Linked DNA regions of Homo sapiens: region 2 is linked to region 1. The links come from fine-mapping of genetic effects on plasma protein levels. Region 1 holds a variant in brackets. A gene starts in the other region. All regions are shown on their reverse strands.

Region 1 (5,381 bases):
TCTCTTAACCTCGTGATCCACCCCGCCTCGGCCTCCCAAAGAGCTGGGATTACAGGCGTGAGCCACTGCGCCCAGCCGACACTGCATTTTTGAAACAAGAATAGGATGTTATTAAATAAAGGAATGACTGGAAAACAAAAAGAAATATTGGCAATTATAAATTCAGTTGATGATAAGCGCAGTAGAAGATAAAGTTAAGGAACTCTCCCATAAGATAGAATGAAAAGAGATGATCCATGGGTGAGAAAAAAAAATTCAACCAACATTAGACAAAGAAAACAGAGACTATATGGGAAAGAAATAGTCAATGAAACACTAGATTTCCCAGAACTTAAGGTGTATTCTCCATATTGAAAGGGCCCAATGTTGATCCGCAGGCCCACACTTAACCATTTGCAGTGCCCAGTGCAGGAATACAAATGGAGCCCCACCTACTTTATAGCCCCTACTCTATAAGTTATAAAGTGTCTAGACCCTAGATTCATGTCAGGTTCCACATAAGTCCTGCAGTCTGTCTCTTGGAAACTGCCTTTCTCAACTAGCCAGGAGGCTAAAGGAACATGTGTTTCCCTGCATTAACCCTGACTGCAAGCTGGGAGGTGGGAGGATGGAGAGGGGTAGGGCTGTCTGCTGGAGCAGCAGGGTGGAAGCTGGGTGGGGGCCAAGCATTGACCTGGCCAAGCTTTTGTGGGAGCCTGCTAGGCAAGCGATGCTCTCTGCCCTGCCTCACTTCTGATTTGGGTTTCCCAGGAGGTTCTAAGCAGCTCCCCAAATGATATTACTGACCACAGGAGTAGTAGAGAGTGCATTTATGGAGGGAGAGTGGGTGAACCTGTCTGCCCAGATGTGCTCTTTGGTCTTTTTAAGCTGAAAAACATTAAGCAAAAGCATTCATTTTTTTCTCTGGTGTCCCAGAGCAGAAGCTGTGAATTTATTCTCATTGTACCTTCTCAATTCTGCATCCTCAGGACTTGAGGACCACAGTTCTGCCTGTGCCCCTCTCCCACAATTCCTGTTTTTTATTTATTTGCTGGACTTTTAAAATATTTTCCAAGGAGAGTGAAAGGAATTAAACCATGCGTTTGGTTTTGGGGTGTGTGGAGACCAATCTAAAATGTAGGGCCCAGCACAGCCCCTGCAACACCCGGAATAGAATACTGAGTGCCCAGCACAATAAATGGAAAGAGATCCATATCAACTTAAATCTAATTAAATTTTAGGGATAAAAGGATGATCCTCAAGATTCCAGTGGAGGAAAAAAACAGTTTTACACTAAGGATTGAGAATTAGAGTGAAAATGGAAGGGTAAAAGTTAGAAGATGGTGTCAGAAAGATTCTGAGCAAAAGTCATTTTCAACCTAGTGTCCTATATTTGGCCAGATTATCAGTCAAGTGTGAGGCCAGACTAAGCACATTCTTAGACATGAATGATCTTGAAATGTTTCCCCTCTCATGTGGCTCATTTGCAACAAGCTATGGAAGAATGGGTTTCACCAAAGAAGAAGGCTGAGAAAGAGGGAGGCATTAACTCAGGATATGCATCACCCTATTTGAGAGAAGAAAATAAAATTTCCAGGACAAAGGCAAATTATCTGAGAAGTGTCAGTGAGGAAAATTGTATGAAGAGGGATTTTACAAGTCCGTTGGAAGTGTCAGGAAGACTTAGATGTTTAAAGAAAACCAAATAAGTGAGAAAAAGGAGGTAATTATTAACTCCAGGAAAAACAAAAGGTTTTGTAAGGAAGGAAATATAAGCGTAATTAATAGGTACAGGGTAGTGATGATATTGGTGAACAAAAGGCAAATAATATTTCCTCATTCTAAAAATGAAATCACAACCAAAAAGTCATCAGTACTTGAAACTGACACCTCACTTCCTAGCAGGGCCTACTAGAAGGAAGCCAATGCATCCCTATCATTCACCCCACTGTGTCCACATTAGACACAATTTGGGCAGAGTGAAATTGTTATAGAGATCAAGTGGGGACTGAGAGATTGAGGGTGGGAAACTTTTCCTTCTCATCCCCTCTAGGTGCTTGCTTCACTGTGAAGTCAAATGAAGGAGACGCCTAGAGATTCACTTGGAAAGGATGGCCTCTCCATAAAGCTATTGGACATGGCTGCTGGTCTTTCCCAAAGTA[A/C]AAGATGTGAGAAAGGGAAAGAGAGAAAGAGAGAGATCAAGACAGTGAGACAAAGAGACAGACAGAGTGAAGTTGCCAAAAAAAAAAAAAAAATGAAGCCACAGTTTCTTTTATAACATGATCTCAGGGGTATTAATATATACTAACACTTTCCTCATATTCTATGGGTCACACAGACCAATCCTGATATATTAAGGTGGGAACCACACAAGCATGTGAATATCAGGAGGAAGGAATCTTGGGTATCAGCTGTCTCCTAATGACAACAATTTTGATACAAAAATAAGCAAGTTAAGGGGATTGAGGATTTTTGTGTATTCAAAGAAGGCTTCAAAATGGTGACATTTGAACAGATTTGAATAAAGGGACAAAACATGCTTGATAAAGATATAAGCAAGCTTGGTATATTGGCATAGTGTTAAGAGGCCAGTGTGGCTAAATTAGTGAAGTAAATTAGTTATAGAGAAGTCAATAAGTTCAAAGATAGGAGATAGGCAGGGGACCAATTATGCAGAACCTTGGCTTTAGAAACAGATTTGGATTTCATTATTATGAAAATGATGGAAGTGGTGAGTACAAAAGCCCCTATAGAGTGTGTGGAAGAGAAAATGGGAGGTGAGAACATGGCGAACAATAACTATAACATTCTTTTCAAAGATTTTTGCAATAAAGATGTCAGACAAATTGTGTGGTAAATGGAGAGGCATTAAATATGTAGAGAGAGCTTTGTAAAAATGGGAGATATTACAGCACATTTGTCATAAAGAAGAACAAATTGAAGATGCAGGGAGAAATGGAACATAATTACGGAAGCAAAATCCTTGATTAGGTAATACGGTATGGAATCTAGCATGAAGGTAAAAGATAGGGCCAAGGAACTTCACTTACCATCATGAGAGAAGCCAGAGAATATGTAGGTTTGAGTTCTGTGTGGGTTGGTCAATGTGGTGGTAGTTATGGTGAGATCCTTCTTTCCTGATTTCTTTGAACTTAGTGAAGTTTCTGAGGCCATTGATAGGGTGTGTCCAAATTCCTTACTGAACCATCCTTGACATATTCTTTCAACATGGTGTATTTTTTTTTTTAATCACAATGTTGACTTGTTTATATACTATTGAGTATTTTTCCTAATGGAATATTTCTGCAGATCTGTATTAGTCTGTTCTCGCATTGCTGTAAATAACTACCTGACACTGGGTAATTTATAAATGAAAGAGATTTAATTTACTTGCAGTTCTGCAGACTGTACAGAAAGCAAGGCTAAGGCCAGCCTGGTCTTGAACTCTTGACTTCAAGTGATCCAACTGCCTCAGCCTCCCAAAGTGTTGGAATTACAGGCATGAGCCATGGCACCCAGCCAGATGGAAGTTTAAGAAGACTTTGCATTTCAACTTCAAAATGTCGTGAATTAAACTTTCATATTAAATGTGCACCAGTATACACAACAGACTGGCAGGCACTTACTAATAAAATTTTTAAAAAAATATTATGACTAAAAGACAGAAAATGATAAATAAAAATATATACAAAGTGATACTTTTTTCTTTTTTTCTTATTATACTTTTTTAGGGTACATGTGCACAATGTGCAGTTTAGTTACATATGGATACATGTGCCATGTTGGTGTGCTGCACCCATTAACTCATCATTTAGCATTAGGTATATCTCCCAATGCTATCCCTCCCCCCTACCCCCACCCCACAACATGCCCTGGTGTGTGATGTTCCCCTTCCTGTGTCCATGTGTTCTCATTGTTCAATTCCCACCTATGAGTGAGAACATGAGGTGTTTGGTTTTTTGTCCTTGCGATCATTTGCTGAGAATGATGGTTTCCAATTTCATCCATGTCCCTACAAAGGACATGAACTCATCATTTTTTATGGCTGCATAATATTCCATGGTGTATATGTGCCACATTTTCTTAATCCAGTCTATCATTGTTGGACACTTGGGTTGGTTCCAAGTCTTTGCTATTGTGAATAGTGCCGCAATAAACATACGTGTGCATGTGTCTTTATAGCAGCATGATTTATAATCCTTTGGGTATATACCCAGTAATGGGATTGCTAGGTCAAATGGTATTTCTAGTTCTAGATCCCTGAGGAATCGCCACACTGACTTCCACAATGGTTGAACTAGTTTACAGTCCCACCAACAGTGTAAAAGTGTTCCTATTTCTCCATATCCTCTCCAGCACCTGTTGTTTCCTGACTTTTTAATGATTACCATTCTAACTGGTGTGAGATGGTATCTCATTGTGGTTTTGATTTGCATTTCTCTGATGGCCAGTGATGATGAGCATTTTTTCATGTGTGTTTTGGCTGCATAAATATCTTCTTTTGAAAAGTGTCTGTTCATATCCTTCACCCACTTGTTGATGGGGTTGTTTGTTTTTTTCTTGTAAATCTGTTGGAGTTCATTGTAGATTCTGAATATCAGCCCCTTTGCCAGATGAGTAGATTGCAAACATTTTCTCCCATTCTGTAGGTTGCCTATATACTCTGATGGTAGTTTCTTTTGCTGTGTAGAAGCTCTTTAGTTTAATGAGATCCCATTTGTCAATTTTGGCTTTTGTTGCTATTGCTTTTGGTGTTTTAGACATGAAGTCCTTGCCCAAGCCTATGTCCTGAATGGTATTGCCTAGGTTTTCTTCTAGGGTTTTTATGGTTTTAGGTCTAACATTTAAGTCTTTAATCCATCTTGACTTAATTTTTGTATAAGGTGTAAGGAAGGGATCCAGTTTCAGCTTTCTACATATGGCTAGCCTGTTTTCCCAGCACCATTTATTAAATAGTTTTCTCAGGTAGCGTGATGACTCCAGCTTTGTTCTTTTGGTTTAGGATTGACTTGGCAATGCAGACTCTTGTTTGGTTCCATATGAACTTTAAAGTAGTTTTTTCCAATTCTGTGAAGAAAGTCATTTGTAGCTTGATGGGGATGGCATTGAATCTATAAATTACCTTGGGCAGTATGGCCATTTTCATGATATTGATTCTTCCTACCCATGACATGGAATGTTCTTCCATTTGTTTGTATCCTCTTTTATTTCATTGAGCAGTGGTTTGTAATTCTCCTTGAAGAGGTCCTTCCCCTTCCTTCGTAAGTTGGATCCCTAGGTATTTTATTCTCTTTGAAGCAATTGTGAATGGGAGTTCACTCATAATTTGGCTCTCTGTCTGTTATTGGTGTTTAAGAATCCTTCTGATTTTTGCACATTGATTTTGTATCCTGAGACTTTGC
Region 2 (5,381 bases), not on the chromosome of region 1:
GGGCAGGTCAAATCCCTTCTCTGAGTCTCCAGGTTTTCATTTGTCCTCCAGAGCCCCTCTCAGCTCTCGCATATCACAAAAACCCTTCGTTTCTCTCTCTTCAGCGAGCACCTGTGAGCAGCTGTGCACAGAGGAGTGGGGTCTGGAGCCTGGATAACATGGGTGTGAATTCTGGCTCAGTCCCTTTCCATGGTGTGAGATTTCAAGCAAGTCAGCTGATTTCCCTGAGCTTCAATTTCTCCTTCTGTGAAGCAGATTTAAAAACCCCACTTCATGGGTTCCTGATTCTGCCAGCCGGGTGAAACCAGCTAGTAACATTCAGCCACGTTACTTAGCCTATTTGTGCCTCGGTTTTTCTTATTTATAAAATGAGTATAATCGTGATACCTACCTGACAGGGTTTGTTGTTTGTTTTTTCCAGCTTAGGCTGGAGTGCAGTAGTGCGATCTTGAGTCACTGCAACCTCAGCCTCCTAGGTTCAATTAATTCTCCTGCCTCAGCCTTCCAAGTAGCTGGGACTACAGGAGCACGCCCCCACCCCTGACTAATTTTCATATTTTTAGTAGAGATGGGTTTCACCATGTTCACCAGACTGGTCTCGAACTCCTGACCTCAATGATCTGCCGTCCTCGGCCTCCCAAAGTGTTGGGATTACTACAGGCATGAGCCACCGCATCCTACCCTGACAGGATTATTTCTCATGAGAGTGAAATGCATTAGTATATGTAAGTCCATTTGTATAGTGTGTCCAGCACATGATTATGATTTGCCTTGGTCTATGGGAATATATGAAAACAGAAGTGGCTCAGAGAGGGGTGTTTTGTGCAAGAGGAGGAGGTGGATCTTTGGAGAGAACTGTCTGTGGGTGATGGTTCCTCACCCATCCTCAGTCTTGGAGCCCCTGTGCCCCATATCTTACCTGCAGCCTCTGACCTGGCCTCCTCACCCCCAGCAATAGGTGACTTACCTGCTTTTCACCTCCTCAAATATGCTCTTAGCTTAGCAGGCACCTCCATCATTCTGGGGAGGCCTGTCCTTCTTTTCCAAATGGGAAACGGGCCCTTATCCTGTGCTTGGGAGAGGTTGCCAGGGAAAGTGGGTTGAGTCTCCCAGACACGCTGGCACTCTGCTGCCCAGTAGAAAGATAAATATCACTTTGACAGCTGCTGCCCCCAGGGGGGAGCTCTTCTGAGGGGTGGGAGGCACTTTCCTCCCTTGGCCCGAGTGCCTGGCTTTCTGTGTGTGCCTGCTGGGTCACTTGCCCTGGGGCTTGTCCACGTCCAGAGTGCTGCTTAGCAACCCAGTGGAATTGGGTGACTGTGTCAACAGCTCAGGACCAAAGGCTGCAAGAGGCAAGGTCTACTCACTCTGCCAAGACCAGGGATGGTGACACTCCTCAGCTGCCAGCCTCTTGCCCTCCGTGCTGAGCCTTGCTGTCAGCGCAGACCTCTGACATCTCTTCTCTGAGATTTCCCAAGCACAGGCATTGGGACCAGGAGTCTCCATACGGGAGACCATCCCAGCTGAATGAGCTTTGGGCGGGCCCAGGTAATGTTTCCCAGCAAATGGGGGTAGACAGAGGCCTGTGATGCTGAGGTCAGGTGCGTGGCCCCAGAAGGCAGCCAGCAGGGAAGGGACAGTTCTGCAGCACGCACCAAAGGACCCGAGGCTCACGTGTGCAGTGACCTCCTGAGTCATGGATGTCCCTTTCAGCTGCTCCCCTATTCAGTCACAGCTTTCCTCCTTCAGGGAGACCCAGGACACTTTTCACCTAGAGAACCATGTCTGTGCCTAAAGATGGACAGTGGCTGGGGCCTTCCTTAGGAGTTCCTCTAGCCCTTGGCCTTTTTGGTTACTCCAATGTGTGTGTGTAAGGGGGGACAGGTAAATGTGAGGGTTGGTTAAGAGAGGAGAGGGAGACATGGGGCCTCGGGGAAGTTTCTCCTGTGGGCTGGTTTCACTGCTGGCTCTCACACCCAGCAATACCAATAAAACTGATGACAGTAATTAAGACCATATAATCACCGTGTGTTTATTTATCCCCCAGAAGCCTCCTTTCCCTGGCCCCATGATTACCTATTCCATCCTTATGATAGCTGGTGGGGGTTAACTGTGGCTCCAATAAAAAGCAGTAACTGCCTGTGTTTCCACCCCACATGCCCGGACAGCTTTGCTCCCACCCTCTGCAAGGTGGGGGGACACTATTTTCAGAGGGAACAACAGAGGCAGTAAGCTGAAGATGTCAAAAAGAATGAAACCTCACAGGGCAAGTAGTAGAAGCAGCAACGTTTGCCTTCTTTTTTAGAGCCTTCCCCCTTCTTCCTGGCATCTGCCTCCCTCCCAGAGGAACTTATCCGGTTCCATGGCCCTCTGCAGGGCCACTCAGCCTGCAGCTGCTGATCTCTCAGAAGACTGATCAAGCCAAGCATGTAGCCACCAGCCAGCAATAAATACCACTGGGTGATACCAGGAAAGTTACTTTTCACCACTGAGCATCCTATTTCCTACATGGTTAAAAGAAGTTTGCAAAGACTAAGACCTTGCGTGCAAACGTGCATTACAAAATGGCAATGGTTGATACTACTATTAAGGGCCCAGGGTTATTTGTGTACTTGGCTCAGAGGAATAGGTGGAATTTCAAACTTCTGCTGAAGGAGTGTGGGAGCTGAGAGCTCTACCCAGAATGCCTCAAATCATCGCGGTCAGCCTGCCCCGGAGTCAGGGATCTGGAAAGGCATCCCAGAGAGAAGGGAACCCCTGAAACCTGGTGGGGCAAAAAGTCCCTCAGGTTCCCTCTCCCCCCACACCTCCCCCCTTTCCCTCCTGGACCCACTGGTGTGAGACCCGGACTTGCTGGCGCTCAGCCAAGCTTCCTTCCAGCTCCTGACTGAGCCTGCAGAGGAGATCCTTCCCTCTACCCCACCAACCGCATCTCATGCCTTTACCCGGTTCACAGAGGGGAAAATGAGGCGAGAGGGAAAGACACCGGGAAAAGCCAGTGAAGGGTCGCTTAAACTCTGGAGTCCAGATTTTCTTTGTGTGCCGACCCCCGCACTCCCCCTGCTTTTTTGTTACAGCTTCCCACACGCTAATCTTTCCGATTGGGAAGGTGGCTCCACTGTGGGCCCCACGCGCGAGTCCCGCGGCACATCGCCCCTTTAAGGGGCCGGCCTCTCGCCTCCCTGACCTCGCCCCGCCCCCTCCGGGGCTACACTGCGCCTGCGTGGCAAGCCGGAGCCCTGGGGTTGGGCAGCACTCGGTTCCGTGCAACTTTCAAGTGAGTTGCGAACTCCGCCCTGTAGGCCGGTGCTGGTGGCCCGGCGCGCTGGAACCGCGGCGACCCGCTCCAGCGCGGGACCAGCAGCAAGGGCCGAGCGCCAGGTTCTCCGCGGCAGAAAGGGCGGGTGGGAGCTGTAACTGCCCCGGCCGCGGGGCGCGCCCGCTCCCAAGTCGGCTTCCTCCCCGCCGGGGCCGCTTTGCCTCGGGTCTCCCCATTCTCCAGGTCCCCTGAACTGCACAGTCGGAGGCCGTGGGCGGCGGGCTCTGCCTCCGCCGAGGGACAGCCGGATCGCCCCTCTGCTTCCCGCAACTGCCCTGATCACCCCCCGTCCCAGCCCTTGAGTGAACGTCCTTCTGAGCGGCTTCCTGGGGTCCTCCCCACGTCCCAAAGGCCGGCAAGATGGTGTCCTGGATGATCTGTCGCCTGGTGGTGTGAGTATGGCCGCCCTCAGACCTCCTCTACCCCGGGGTGCCGTCCCGCCCCTGTGGTGGAAGCTGTGGACGTCTAGTGGGAGGAGGAACTTTCTGAGCTCCACCCTCCAGCACTCCATGCAAGGGTTAACGGACCTGTGGGCTTGCACGCGGTGTCTGGGGCACCGCAGGCTACCCGCCCCACCAAGCCTCGTTGGCTGAGAACGACCCCTGCCGCACGCCACACACACTGCAAACAGATGCGTGGAGCCGAGGGCCACAGGCCTACCTTGCTGCCCCTTGGCAAACACAAGGTGATATGGCACGTTGTGGGCGGAGAATCCAGGTGCCTGCTTGCCATCTGAGCAGTCACATGACTCACCATCCTATTCCTCACCTTTGAGTATGCCAACATCTGGCTCACATAGCCCTATCTGCAACCCAGCAGTGTCAGGTCTGGTGACCCTGGGCCTGATTGCATGCCCATGGGAGGGGACAGTCTGGTGTTCTCACCCACTTCGTGGAGTGGCTGTCCTCTCACTCCATCATGCACCCATGGGCCACCGGTGCAGGCCTGGGCAGGCTTGGGATGTTTGTAAACAGCAGGGTGGGGAGGTGGCCTCCAGGGCTCTGACTCAGGCACGGGTTGTACAAGCCAAGCGAGAAAAACAGGGCGGGTACTGCCACCTTGCACCCCAGTGGGGGGAAATGGCCACTTGGCAAGGTGGGAGTGGGGCATGGTGCCCCTCACACTCCCCATGGCTGCTCTTCCAGGCTGGTGTTTGGGATGCTGTGTCCAGCTTATGCTTCCTATAAGGCTGTGAAGACCAAGAACATTCGTGAATATGTGAGCGTGGGGGTTTGGGTGTGTTTAATAGGACTTGGTGAGGTGGGGAGGGTCTCAGTTGGCCTCTCCCTCCTCCAGGGGCAAGGCTGTGTGGCACATCCTGAGTGGAGTGGGGAGGGAGAGAGAATGGGCCCTGTTCAAGAGGGTGTAGATAGAGGGCAGGCCATCGGGGTGCCTGTGGAAGATCTGGTGGGTGAAGCTTGTTGGAGGCGGGCATAGGAATGAGCAGCAGTTTCTCAGAGCTCCTGTCCAGCCATGTGTGGGGGAAAGCAGCTATGCAGCCGGACAGGCTCCCTGGAATCTCTGGGCTGGGCTGGCCTGGGTTGGGAGTTGGTGCTGCAGGCCCCATGCTGACCTCTGGGCGCTCACCCCACAGGTGCGGTGGATGATGTACTGGATTGTTTTTGCACTCTTCATGGCAGCAGAGATCGTTACAGACATTTTTATCTCCTGGTATGGACGCAGGGTCCGCAAGCCATGGGTCAGGGGTGGCCCCCCCAGCCCTGCTCCTTGGCTCACCCTGCCCCTTGTGCTGTGACAGGTTCCCTTTCTACTATGAGATCAAGATGGCCTTCGTGCTGTGGCTGCTCTCACCCTACACCAAGGGCGCCAGCCTGCTTTACCGCAAGTTTGTCCACCCGTCCCTGTCCCGCCATGAGAAGGTACCCCAGGGGGAAGCGGGAAGGGAGGCTTAGGGGTGGGTATGAGGGAAAGAGCCCTGGACCTGGGATTTAGGATGCTGGGGACACCGGGGTTCTATCCCAGTCCTGCTGCTATTGAGGGGCAGGACCTTGACAGGGCCCAGCCTACCTCATCTTCTGGGATAATCAGGTGGGGGTACACA

Alleles and levels. Positions count from the first base shown, and alleles are read on the strand shown. Strength reflects both the effect of a copy and how common the allele is.
As copies of A replace C in region 1, the plasma level of the protein whose gene starts at base 3,255 in region 2 goes down (moderate association).

Evidence for each region. PIP is the chance, under the fine-mapping model, that this variant and not a neighbour inherited with it causes the effect. The UK Biobank Pharma Proteomics Project read protein levels with antibody pairs (Olink). The fine-mapping took linkage between variants from a reference panel, not from the people measured, so its PIPs are less certain.
Region 2: it holds the start of REEP4, and the variant in region 1 is fine-mapped to the plasma level of the REEP4 protein (UK Biobank, PIP above 0.99).

Annotation. Positions count from the first base shown.
Region 1 is chr12:11,420,445-11,425,825 of GRCh38, reverse strand. No RefSeq gene overlaps it. Among named protein-coding and RNA genes, the nearest start is that of PRB2, 28 kb to the right of the region's middle. The variant A/C (reference allele first, on the strand shown) is at 2,142.
Region 2 is chr8:22,139,781-22,145,161 of GRCh38, reverse strand. REEP4 (receptor accessory protein 4) reads left to right here and starts at 3,255. Exons shown (of 8, transcript NM_025232.4): 1 at 3,255-3,711; 2 at 4,465-4,537; 3 at 4,914-4,990; 4 at 5,079-5,199. The coding sequence starts at 3,680. RefSeq lists silencers at 3,212-3,341, 3,352-3,501 and enhancers at 4,266-4,873, 4,874-5,381.